Regions from separate parts of the Homo sapiens genome. Here all the other regions are linked to region 1. The links come from fine-mapping of genetic effects on gene expression. A gene starts in region 1. Each other region holds a variant in brackets. All regions are shown on one strand. Distances are between the middles of the regions.

The links. PIP is the estimated chance that this variant, and not a neighbour inherited with it, causes the effect. A credible set is the group of variants that fine-mapping cannot tell apart.
Region 2: its variant is the best candidate, but not a certain one, in a credible set for the expression of BMP2 in whole blood (INTERVAL, PIP 0.90).
Region 3: its variant is the best candidate, but not a certain one, in a credible set for the expression of BMP2 in whole blood (INTERVAL, PIP 0.70).

Annotation. Positions count from the first base shown.
Region 1 is chr20:6,765,512-6,769,757 of GRCh38, reverse strand. BMP2 (bone morphogenetic protein 2) reads right to left here and starts at 2,072. Exons shown (of 3, transcript NM_001200.4): 1 at 883-2,072. It overlaps LOC105372517 (a long non-coding RNA gene), which reads left to right and starts at 2,274. Exons shown (of 4, transcript XR_937229.2): 1 at 2,274-2,437; 2 at 2,953-3,358; 3 at 3,750-3,906; 4 at 4,089-4,165. RefSeq lists cis regulatory regions at 1,393-1,567, 2,208-2,307, 2,314-3,104, silencers at 1,939-1,988, 2,079-2,128 and promoters at 1,018-2,177, 1,567-2,208, 1,018-4,246.
Region 2 is chr20:7,749,427-7,753,672 of GRCh38, reverse strand. No RefSeq gene overlaps it. Among named protein-coding and RNA genes, the nearest start is that of HAO1, 190 kb to the left of the region's middle. The variant G/A (reference allele first, on the strand shown) is at 2,488.
Region 3 is chr20:6,958,140-6,962,385 of GRCh38, reverse strand. No RefSeq gene overlaps it. Among named protein-coding and RNA genes, the nearest start is that of BMP2, 190 kb to the right of the region's middle. The variant G/A (reference allele first, on the strand shown) is at 2,353.

The DNA.
Region 1 (4,246 bases):
CTGCGTCCCCTATACAAACCCAAATGCGGAGTGCTGAGCGCTGTCTGGCATATAAACACACATAAATGGTGCATGTGACTTCCTTAGAGGCACTGTATAGAACTTCCTGACACACACACACACACACACACACACACACACACACCCTTATAGCTTCCAGACCCTGTAAGCTCAAGGCCACAACTTCTGAAGCCACTTATGACTTGTGTCCCAGGCCCCTACCCTCAGGGGTGTCTCGAAAGGCAGCTCCATCCCGCATCCCCACAGTGCAGTCAAGATACACATGTATCTTCCCGGGATTACGTAAATGGTGAATATCTATTAATGCACGTGTCAGCTGTTAAAAACACAGTACCAAGTGATCCTTCAGTACTGACCCCTCGCATTTCTGGAAACAAGTAGGGAGAACCCCAAACTCCTAGTACTTTCCTAAATGGGACACGGCTCTGAGCAAAGAAACCAAGTCTCCCGGAAACACTTGAAGAATGGAGATCACCATGGCAGAGCGGACAGGTTCTCAGCTAACGGGTGAAACCCAGGGGCTACCCTCTCAAAGGGATTTCTTTGACCCAAAAAAGTTTTTAAAAAAATTAAAAATAAATAAATAAATAAATAAAACACCTCATCTAAGTGTTAACAGCTCCAAAAGTATTCCAGGGAGAGGGGAAGAAAGAGGGGTGGAAGAGTGCGGGCCGGGAGGGTGAGGCTTACGGTCGCCCGGGGCAGCTGGAAGTGGGAGCCCCTGCAGGGCTCCGTTGCACGTGGACTGGAGAGGGGTCTGTTTACTTCTGGCCTGGACGTAAGGAAGGGCTCTACCGCAGTGGCTGCCCAAATCCCCCTCCCACCCACCACCCACCCCGGGCCCTGGCCCGCGTCCTCTACCTTTAGGAGACCGCAGTCCGTCTAAGAAGCACGCGGGGACACGTCCATTGAAAGAGCGTCCACATGGAAAAACTCTGGTCAAAGGACCTGGCGCAAGGACCGAATGTCCGTTCCTTTTCTTTGCCTCCTCCTTCTCCCGGGTGCCGGCCGCGCAGTCTCTCTTTTCACGCTGGGAACAGCGTCTCAGTGTCGGGCAAGGCCGAGGAGTGGAGGGGCGGTGGGGCTCGGAGATGGCGAAGCAGGCTCCGCTGGGGCAAAGGCACCGGCGCAAAGTGGGGTGCGCAAGTTATTCTCCCTGCAAGTTCAAGAAGTCCCCAGCCAAGTGCTGACACACAACAACAGCGAGCAGGGGGAGGAGTGCGGGGCAGGGAAGGGAAGGGAGAAAGGAGAAGCTGGTGCTGTCGTCCTCCTTAGGAACCAGCGCCCGAGGGACGCGTGGCCCCGCGCGGGGCCGGCTCCGGGACTCGGGGGTCGAGGGTCGGGCGCTCCGCGCTAGCTCCGCCGCGGCCCATGGCTCGGGGCAGCCATCCTGGGCGACGCCGGGTCCAGGGAAGGGCACGGCGGCGATCTCGGTGCCAGGCGAGTTGCCCCCCCGCATCACTCTGCCTTACTCCAGTGCACCCCCATTCGCGCTCGCCAGTTGAAAGCACCGCGGCTCTGGCGCCCCGTCGTCCTCGGGCGCATTCTCCGGCGAGTCGAGCCGAGTCCCGGGCCGCCGAGGCGGGTGGCTGTGCTCTCCCCTCGCTCTCCTAGCCCTGGGGCCAAGTGCCCTTTGTGGCTAGCCTGGGGTCCGATCACACCTCGGCCAGCGCGTCCCAGGCCCCCGATCTCCTGCAGTAGGTGCTCCGCATCGCGGCGCTAGGGATCGGCTCCGGAGTCCCCGGCGCTCTGCGCGCCCGTCCGCGGCTCTGGCGCAGCCCGGGCAGCAGAGGCCACGGCGCTGTGGCGCGCTCTGCCGGGTGCTCCAGCCCGCGCGGGGTCTGCGGCGCGCGGGTGCCTCGCGGTCCCCGGTGATCCACTCGGCGCTGGCCCCGAGAACGTTCGGGTAGCCGGCGGAGGCTGTGGCGGCAGATGTGCGGCGGCGGCTGCCAGTCCCCGGCGGGGTGTGGGAAGCGGAGCGACTAGCGCAGCGCGAGCCGGGCGCAGCGCGGCGGGGCGAGGACTCCGGCGGCGGCGACGGCGGCGGCGGCGCCGTGGCGCGGCGCTCGCGGCTTTTAAAGGGGACGCCGCCTGCCGGCTCCCTCCCGGCCGCGGCCGAACACCTCCCCCTTCGCGGCGCGGCTCGCCGGGGATCCCCGAGCGGGCGGGAGCTGCGCGCAGGGGTGTGGACGGCGCGCCCGGGCAGCCGCGGCGGGGTGGGGCGGAGGGCGGGGGCGCGCGGCCGCCAAGGGGGGCGCTCGCGCCTCCACTCCCTGCTCTCAAAGGAGAGATCAGCTGGCGCGCCGGACCCTCGCGGGGACTCTGGAGGCGAAATCCAGGACAAATGCAGGGTCAGGGTCTGGCCTCTTATTTCCCCGCTGGGCCCGTTATTCAACTTTCAGTTTGAAGTTTTTCGGTAATATACGATTTCAAAAAACAAAACAAAACAAAACACCTCAATTACAGCGTATTTTGGCATAGCATAGACGTGGGATCCACGCTTCTGTTTCCCCGGAATAGGAGGAAAATTAAAAGAAAACAGCAGGCTGGAAATTGAGTGTTTTTAAACATTAATACATAGAGATGTATGTATTTACATATGTAAATGCATGTGTACAAATTTTTTTACATAAATGTGTATGCATTTATTTTCATATCCATACGCATGTAAATTTATAGTTACATAAATATATCCAATATACAAAAATATGTGCATATATTTCTATAAATATATTCATGTATGAGAATATATGCAACCGAAGGGCCACATTTCGGTTAATATGTCTATGTATGTGACATGGATGTCATCCTGCTTTACGTGACATGTGTGTAACGTAGACTGCGTGTGTGGCAGACTGAAGGATGGATGGGAGGGATTTGATTTTTTTATTGTACAATCACTTTGTGCCTTGTGATATTTATCTCACCCAGCTCAGAGGCAGGCGATTAGCAGCTCAGAGGAAGGTAAAATAACGCACTGTGTGAACCAAGCATACAGGACAATTCCAGTTTGGGACCTTGGAACCTTCTACGCCACCCTCTTCCACCAGGCCCCCAAGAAGTAGGGCTGTGACACGTGGCCAAGTCACTCCTCAGCTGAATATTCACTGAAGTCACTCCTCAGCCGAAATACTGCTCAGAGCTGCTGCACGATGAGTCTGGGGCCAAGGCTTTCTGCCCTTCCCAGGATTCCAGGAGCCCCCATGCACAGCACCTCGGGCTTGCCCAAATGATCCCCAAAACCAAGGGCAGAAAATTTTTGGAAAAGGCCAAGTTCTGCTTTCCCAGAGCTATCGGGCCTGCGAAACAGAGAGAAAAAAGTCAGAAGCAGGAGCTGGTAATAGAACTATTATCCATGTGTATTATTTTTTCGGTAGGGGAGCTAAAATAATACTAGGTTCCGCTCACGTAAATCGGATTAGCAACCCACAGAGGCGAATTAGGCACTTGCTGTTTCTAAAGGTATAAAGGTCAAATAAGGTATTTTGGAGGAAGCCTGACTACCAGGAAAATAAAAGGGGGTGGGGGAATTATTCAGGAACATGCTACTTTATTTCCTGAAAAAAAAAAAAAAGGTGCTATAGAAGTTGATTGTCACTCAGAGTCATTGCACCGCAAACAAGGAGGCAATAAAACATATCCTACTCATGGACACAGGGCTTCTGAAATTATTTCCTTTCCTATCAAGTTTAATTGAGAAGTTAACAATTGTTTCTCTCATTACTTAGATTTCAAAAACAAAACAAAACAAAACTTCAATGAGATTTAAGTAGCTTTTAAAGAGGAGGAAAAGTTGATAACTATTGGATGCACCCGAAGAAAAAATAAATAAATATCCTGTGATGACCTCAAGGATGTCTTGCAGCTTTAGAACTTCATAACCTGGTAAGTGGAAACCTTGTCAGTTTAGAATCTGAGGGAAAATGGGTACTTCTGAACACTGTTTCATGTTAGTGCTGCCCATTGCAGAATCTCTTTTATGTAGGGTGTATGATTTCTGAGGAACTACTGAATGCTTGTTCCAAGCACAACTTACATAAATTTTGGCCCTATTTTTTTTTTTTTAGAGATGGCTGCCCTCTTGTGGTGGAAATGAGTTCGAACGCTTGAAAGAAAGAAGTCCATAAATAAATAAATAAATAAATAAGTAGTCTCCAGAGACTGATTTGGGATCGAAGTACAGGATGACTGTACCTACCCGTTTTCCAGGGAAGAGCAATAGTCA
Region 2 (4,246 bases), 980 kb before region 1:
TGGTATGGAGGTCAGGTAGGGTCTTGGATTTGTATTTTACTTGCCTAGTAATAAGAAACAGTCAACATTTTTTGATTGGGGTAAGGAATGGAAGCACCAGGAAATGTGTGTTAAAAAAAAAGTAGTCTGTGTCTGCCTGTTCTATTAATGGAGTGAGTGGGGCTCTGAGAAAGGAGCCGACCAGGCATTGAGCAGCTGAAAGAAAGTGAAGCTAAGGTAACCTGTGCTAGTGAACTGTGGGTGAGGGTGGAGGAGCACTGATGGGATCCAGCTGCTGAATGGATGTTAGGGATGGTGGTAAGGTGAAGGGAAATGTCAAATAAGTTTTAAAGGTTTTGAGCAAAGAAGGCCATCTGATGGGAGTACCATAGTATGGACAAGACAGGAAGAAGAATAAGCTTGGAGGAAAAGAGAGATGGTCAGTCTTCTGCAAACGGAAGACTGATGCCTGGAAGAATAATGTAGCCTAGAAATAGAGTTGGGAAGTTATCTCTGTAGAAATGATGCTTGAGACATAGCATGAACCAGAAGTGAGCTTTTGAAGTTACACACTTGAGAAAGGATAGCAGTGTACTAGTGCAGCTTTGGAATGCTCCCTAAAATTAATCTGACCTTGATGGTGTGTAAAACTCAGGGCTAATTCAGAGTTAATTTTTATATTAAATTTCTTCTCATTTTTAAAGCAATCATCAAAATAACGTTATTTTCTGTTTCAAACTAGAAAGATTTCAGATGACTGGCATATGTCCCTTTTCTTAATTGAGCCCATCATTCCTTCACTTCAACGAACTCTCCTATATGTGAATGGAGTGCATAAAAGGAAAGGATTTTGAGGAATTATCTTTGCTACAAGCAGTAGTTACTGTAAAATAGCAGAGCTGAAAAATAAATACCTCAGAGCTTTATATTAGTGAATTACCTCATTTTTATTGATGAATTGCCTCATTTTACCTCTGTGAAACTGTGTTTTTCTAGCCACTGTTTCTAAAGACATAGGAATTCCCAGGAGTTGGCATCAGGAATCTAGAAAAGACCAATGTCATCTCATAGAAAACTCATGAGCTTATCTGGTAAGAGAAGGGAGGGGCTTCACACGACATGCCTGCCTTTTTCCCTCCTAGGTGCTTGTGATATTTGTTCTTGGTATCATGTATAGAATGCTGGTGTGTTTGCCTCAAATCCAGATTGTTAATATTTAGTTGTCAGAAAGATAAAACTATGATTCTTATATAAATATAGGATATAGTGCAGTTCTTATTAACTAGTTCACTAGTTTATACTAGTGAACTAGTATAAATTAACAATAGTTCACTTATATAACTCATCCAGAAATATGACATACCTGGTTCAAAGGGCCTTTGAGGATTAAGAGTGTATATAGTCTATCAGGAAAGACATATTAAAATAAAATTTTACTTTTGAAGTTAGAGACAAAACAGTTTAAAGAGCTATTAGGCAATAAAATCATAACCTTTGGGACTGTCAATTCAATCAGAAAAAAAGTAATTTGCACTTCTATAGGATCAATATTTTAATTAAGGTAACTGGTAAACTCACAGAGGCTGGGCCCTGATCAAGTACAAATAGCAAATCAAGTAAGGTTTATTTTCCTAGAGGAGAGCAAATGTTGACAAATTACAGTAGACCAAAATCCACTGGCCACTTGGTTTTCTAAATAAAGTTCCTTTGGGACAAAGCTACACCCATTTGTTTGTTTCCTATGGCTGATTTTGTGCTACAAAGGTAGAGCTGAATACTCATGACAGAATATATGGTTCTCAGAGCCTAAAATGTGTACCATATGACCCTTTGCAGGAAAAGTGTCTTGACTCCTGGCCTAGAGAATGAAATAATCCTTGGGTGGGCTGGTAAACAATGAACATGCAATAATCCATTTACCTGCTCGTACATTGTGGATAATTTCTCCCAACAAGGGAAAGAAATGGAAATCTTGACAAGGGAAAGAAATGGAAATCTTGACAAGGGAAATCTTCTAGTATAAGGATGAAAAACAACAAAGCTCAAGCTACCTGGTGTGCAAGGTCAGGGGTCATGTCTTGACTCCCAGTCATAATCCAGTGTTAAGAGTATCGGTTTCTTGTGTATATTCTAGTGGGAAGAGAGAGAGAAGGAGACAGAGAGAGAGAGAGAGAGAGAGAGAGAGAGAGAGAGACAGGGTGAGACAGAGAGAGAGAGAGAGAATGAACTAGAGAACTGTGAGTGTGGATATGATTTCCTTGCCTCAGCCCTGCAACTCAGGACAGTCACAGAACATGGGTTGGCTAAGGTGTCACTCTGGGAGCCAGAAGACCTGCATTCAGACAGAGGCTCATTGTTTTAAGGTTTGTATTTAGTTTGGTTCCAGCGTGACCTGTTCTTTCAGCTCCTCAAACACTCAGCACCTCCGTTCTCAGAAACAGCCACAGAGATGAACCACATTTTCTTCCTACAGAAACACTGAAGTCAAGCTCAGAGTCTGCTTGCTTG[G/A]GAGGCAACATGCCTTCCCAGTTTTAGAAGAGAAGGTGGGACCAGATGACCCCTGCTTCTCAAAAATCTCCATATGTTTTTATAAGCATATTTAAAAATAATGCTGTTTGCATAAACATATATGCTACATTAATTTCCTTTTAAAAATTATTTTAAAAATATGTTATTGTATAACCAAGAAAACGAAGATATGTCTCTCCCTCTAAGGTCTGGAGATAATGTACCATTGTCAGAATACTTAAAGGTACCCTAATTTTCCAAACGTGAACTCTAAACAGAGGATACTAAAAAGAGTCATTATAATCATTGCATTTAGATTCCTCAATATTTAAGTCTGTGCCCAGGGTACAATTGTTGAGTGCGGCAGGCAGATTGAGAATTTGGCTGACATATTGGTATTTCAGTGGGAGGATTTCAGAGCTTACTTAGAGAAATACCTATAGATGTCATCATACTAATGACTATCTGCACCCAAATAAATTCAAGTGGGCAGCACTGTTAAGGTCACATAGCAGAAATATATTCATTCTAGAAGATCTAGATATAGTACAACTTTATTTAACTTCAGATTAGTGATGAGTCTATACTCTTGTTAGTGGAATAACCATGTAAATTATCATTGAATTGTCAAATAAAGTCCTTACAGACATTTAGAGTTTAATAAGATGTAACTTAAAATCTATAATGGTTGTGCAGTCCCAAGAATAAGGTGTGATAGAACTGTTGGATTTCACCATGTTTAGAGCTCTTTATGCCCAGGGAGAAGACATGTATACTCCTTAAGAGGCAAAGAAATGGCAAAATTTAAATGAGATCACCTCATGTTGAAGTTGCAGACTTTGTTATATATTGTGAATCCAGAAATTTATTGGACTAGTGGCCACTCCTTCATGTAATTGTGGGTTAATTTATATAGCAACTATAGACTGAGTTTAGAGCATCCATTCATGTCTACAGTAAGAATCCGGCCAACTTGTTGAACAAAAACTCCATGTCCTTATTACCCTAAACAATACTGGAGAGGCATCAACCAAAATTATATGGCATAATATAATAGTTTATGTAATTCCAAATACTATACTTGGTTTAAATCTTTGATGGGAAACAGTGTCATTTAACTGGGATGGGGACACTCTTCCTCATTTAGTAGGTAACTTTTAACCTCAATGAGATTTAGAAAATTAGGGAAGTGTTTAGGAAATTTAAAACCATAATATTAATATTATCTCATTAAGAAATCTGTGTTAGGTTAGTATTTTATAATTTTCTAATATTTAAGAGTATTTAACCTAGTAGAGCACAGAAGAAGTCCAGTTTTAAAATTTATAATTGAACAATCATTTAAATTTTTTGTTTATAGAATTGGAATATTTAAGAGTATCAATGTTTCACCAAAATTTTAATTTAATTTATAAAATTTATATAAATTAGAGGTTAACTGAAATATGTAAAAATTAAATAACTAAATATTTAAAATGTAGTTAAAATGCTTAAGATATTTTAATACATTTATTTATAAAAACTATTATTTAAAGGTCCTTTAAAAGCAATCACTTTTAAACACTGCTAGAGAATAGGATTTTCAAGCTAAACACAAAATAACTTATAAACTAGATTCTTGAAGTTTTCGTATTAGTAAATTCAGTATTACTTGGTTGAATGCAAAATGAGCCTCTGAATAATCTTTTCTGCATATAAAAATTATACTTAAAAATATCCCCATCCCAGTCTCCCATATGACATTGCTAATTTTGGAGAT
Region 3 (4,246 bases), 190 kb before region 1:
AGTGTTCCTATTCTTATTATCTAGAATACCAGGAATAGCAATCTAAATGTGGAGCAGCACCATCCCTTTTTTTCCCTACCTAAGACATTGTTCCACCTTACCATAAGATGCCATTAAAACTTGCCCACTTGCTTATTATGAAACGCGTAACTCAGAAATGAGTAGCACATAAGTCCAGACGAAAATGCATCACAACAACTGAGCCGTGAAGACACCACTGGTCTCCTTTTCTGTGAATACTGTTGGATTCCTAGGACTTCTTGGAATGAATCAAAGTAAAATGACTTTATAAAACTTTCATGGTAGAATCAGACAAAATAATAAGCAGAGCGTTTCAGCTAAATTGCCCTAATGTATTACTGTCAAGAACCCTGTTAGTCTTCAAATCCAAATTATCTGTTCAAATCCAGTTGCTCCTATTTATGCAGAGTCCTTTTCAAAGTTTCTTGGAGGTCTGGGGTCAGAAAAAACCAGGGGGACATGGAGGAGTAGAATAATCAATCTCTAAAAAACCAGTGACATTTCTGATATTGTTGAAATACATTATTTTGTGGTGAAGACTAAATACCATGTGATGGTGTTAATGAGATGTTTCTGTCCCATGAGCCATATAAAGGACATGCCCTGCTGGCCCTTTCTACTAGACATTGAAACTCAGGTTAACACCATTTTCATGGCGGGTCTTCTTTTGTAGCTCTATTGTTTTGCTTCCACATTAGCTGTTTTTTGTCTTGGAGCAAGTCGAGAAAAACAAAAACCATCACATTCCCTGTGGTGCCCTCTCTGCATGTGTGGAGCTGCTTTGAGTTAAGTGTCTCCAGTTGGTATGTTAGATTGGCCATGGGCCACTCGGTACCTCCACAATGCCTCAGGAAATGGTTATTTTTTTCATCCTCTTTGGATGAGGAAAGAGAGTCTATGACCTCCCCCATTAATTCCTTCCAAGACCTTAAAGTGATTGTTTTACTTCTAAGGCTCTTACTTTCTACCTTTAAAAAATAAAATAAACAAACAAACATGTCTCTTCTAGCTCATGTCCTGGACTATTCTGAAGTTTGATTAAGTTATGAGAAGTGTTTTGGAAATCATAAAGATGTAAGTAAATGCAAGACATAATCATATCACCAGGTCATATTCACTTCCTGTCAGTGTTATATTATTTAGTCTTATTATATGGGATTAGCCACATTCTGTGTGTTATTAAAATCTTGTGGTGTCTATCATCATCTGTTGAAAAGAATTAAACCCTTTCAACATAATAACATTTCAATTAGTTTTGTGTAGTTTACCTACTCTTAAACCAGTTTACCTACATTACACTTCTTTGTATATTTCCAAACTAAATATTTTAACCCTACTTTGTCTTTCTCTTCAAAGTATGTGGACTAATTTTTATTAGTCTGAGAACCCATTTACTTCCCTTGGATTAGAACCACTTTCAACTGCTTATTCATATTCTGATGAAAGTTTAGTAGATGGTATTTCTACATCCTACCCCCTCTTTCTGTGTCTGCTCATCATCCTATTTTCTCATTTTCCTTCAAATTTTTACACATCTACCGGATTGCTCCAGAATTTTCTCACCTACATCTTGAAGCTCACTTCCTGGTAAGAGGTTCAGGGACTATTTCAGGTCCTGAACCTCAACCTTTTAGCCACTTAACAACTCCAGCTCCCCAGCTGTCTAACTCATCTTTGTAGTTATATACAATACAGATTATTCACAACTTCATATGGAAGGTATTTCTGTCCTACATTTTTAAATTTAGGGACCTCATTTGAGTCATATTGCTCACTAATTAGTGAAATAAGGGATAAGGTCCAGATAAGGGACCAATGTGGAAGATCAGGTACAAATATTTTCCTGGATGTCAGAGTGCAGATATGTATACTTCTCCCATCATTACAACAAAAAGAAATTACACTAATGATTATTTCAGGGGTAAATTTGCCTCTCAAATTCTCCAACCCTTAAGGATATTGACACATATGCCAGTGTTACTTACTCGAGTCACCTCCAATAAGAGGAATTTATTGGAGTATACTAACTAAACACCTAGGATCTTTTATGTGCCTTGGATAGGAAACAGACTATTGAGTCATCCAAGCTGCTTGATTTTGCAGTTATAGGTGTCAGTTACTAAAGTGCTGTGATATCAAGCACGTGCACATGGAGAGCATACTGTTGAGTATTTTTATAAGGAATTAGTCAATGTAATTGTGGGCTGTAAAGAGATTGTTACACAACCTCATTATAGGTTGTAAACACTTCATCACATGACATCTTTCCATGTCATAAATACATCATCAGCGACCATTATGTTCTCTAATGATGACTTCTTGCATACATTC[G/A]TCACACAAAAATGAGTAAATACCATAAGGAGAGCATAATCTGTGCAGTTTTTCACTGCTATGATAACTCCATCTGTAGAATTTCTTATGGCATGCTGTTTATTTACATAGTCTGTCAAACAGCATAAAGATAAGGATACTTGCTCTTTGCTCTTTATTCTTAAAACCACTTTTGGCTAGAGGTAATAAAATCTGACCTGACCTGTATGGTTTAGAAAATTATATTTTTAAAAAAAGGAAGAGAAAACGACAAAAAATAGGGGTGGTAGGGGGAGAAGGAGGAGAAAAAAATGGAAAAGAGCAAACCACTTACAGCTATTTAAAATAATTGTGTGATATAGACCTTTTTATGTTTGTGTGTATATGAGTTGATTCTTTTAGACATGTTTGACTTTAGACATGCTTGGCAATTGGTTTACATAAAGTAGTAGAACTGACAGCTCCCTGTGCCCAGGGTTAATTTCAACTTCTTTAAAATTAAAATACTAATATCAGTTTATTTCTCCAGGGCCACATGTTGTATATTTTCACTAATTAGCAATTTTCACCTTTGTGCACGACTCCTCCCTAATACTCATGCCTTAGATTATAGGATACAGGAGGACATCTATAAAATTAGACTAAAGCAATCATTTCCAAACTTGTTTTATGAAGCCATGGGTTATGTTTTTGTCCCCAACGTCTCTAATAGAAATAGGTTGGTGGGCCAGGCAGCCTCAACAACCCATCCTACCTCAACCATGGAAGCTCCACTTTCATATGTTTTTAAAATTTGGGCATCAGAATATGAAATCCACTAGAGTAAATGATACACATGTTTATTTGAGCCCTAATCTGCCATGGTGTCTTATTTTTGTGGACTGCCAGCGGTTATCATGGGATAGTGGTGGTAGGCAGCAGGAGATTGGCCTAGGCCTCTCATTGATTAAAACATAAAGTTTAGACTTTTGATCTTATCACCAAGTTAAGTCATATACAGTCAATGTGTTTGTGTGTACCCATGTATATGTGCGTTAACTGTTTATTTGTTAGACACAGGCATTTAAAATATACCACATTTTAATAACCCTGAGTTGGCATTTCCTCATTTTAAAATGTACTTGGGCTCTCAAGCCATAAGAATTTCTTGTTCATTTCTTTACCTCGGAGGAATTCTGATGATTACCCTGCAATACAGTGGTAAAATCCATGCCACGGCTTCTACCTGCAGGTCTAGGAAAGCATCTCTAGGGGTTATGAACTTCCTCTGTTATTAAAGGATTCTCTAGCACCAAGTGGGTTCTGAGGTAAGACCCGCAGAGATCACTTCACTAGGTTTCTTCATTTAATTCCCACAATAGTCCTATGTAACTACTATTATCTCAACTTTCATATGAGGAAGGTGAGGCTTAGAGAGACTAAACAAGACAGTAAGTGACAGAATGTTATTCCAACCCAGGCAGGCTACCCCCAGAAACCAAGATCTTAACTATTAAGTCAGATTTACATTAAAGTTAATACAAATTACTGCTTATTTCACTTTGAAACATATTAGAAATGACCAAGAATTAAATAACTCAAGAGGAACTACTTACTTTTTGTTGTTTATATACTATTATTTTAGTGTCTCTGATTGAGGATGGCTAAATAAAACAAAAAAAATTTTAACTTAATTTCCTAAAATTTATGAACACACACATGCATATACATAAGACACACACTATATACATGAAATTATCTACTCTTATACATACACACATATATAAAATGACATAATAATATAGTAAAATAATTCATGTAAGAGAATTCATTTTGATGTAGCATGCAAACATCTGACTGAAAAGAAGTAGAAAGGTCAGAATATATTTTATAAAGAACGCATAAAATTGAATAACAACAACAAAGCCCAATTCAA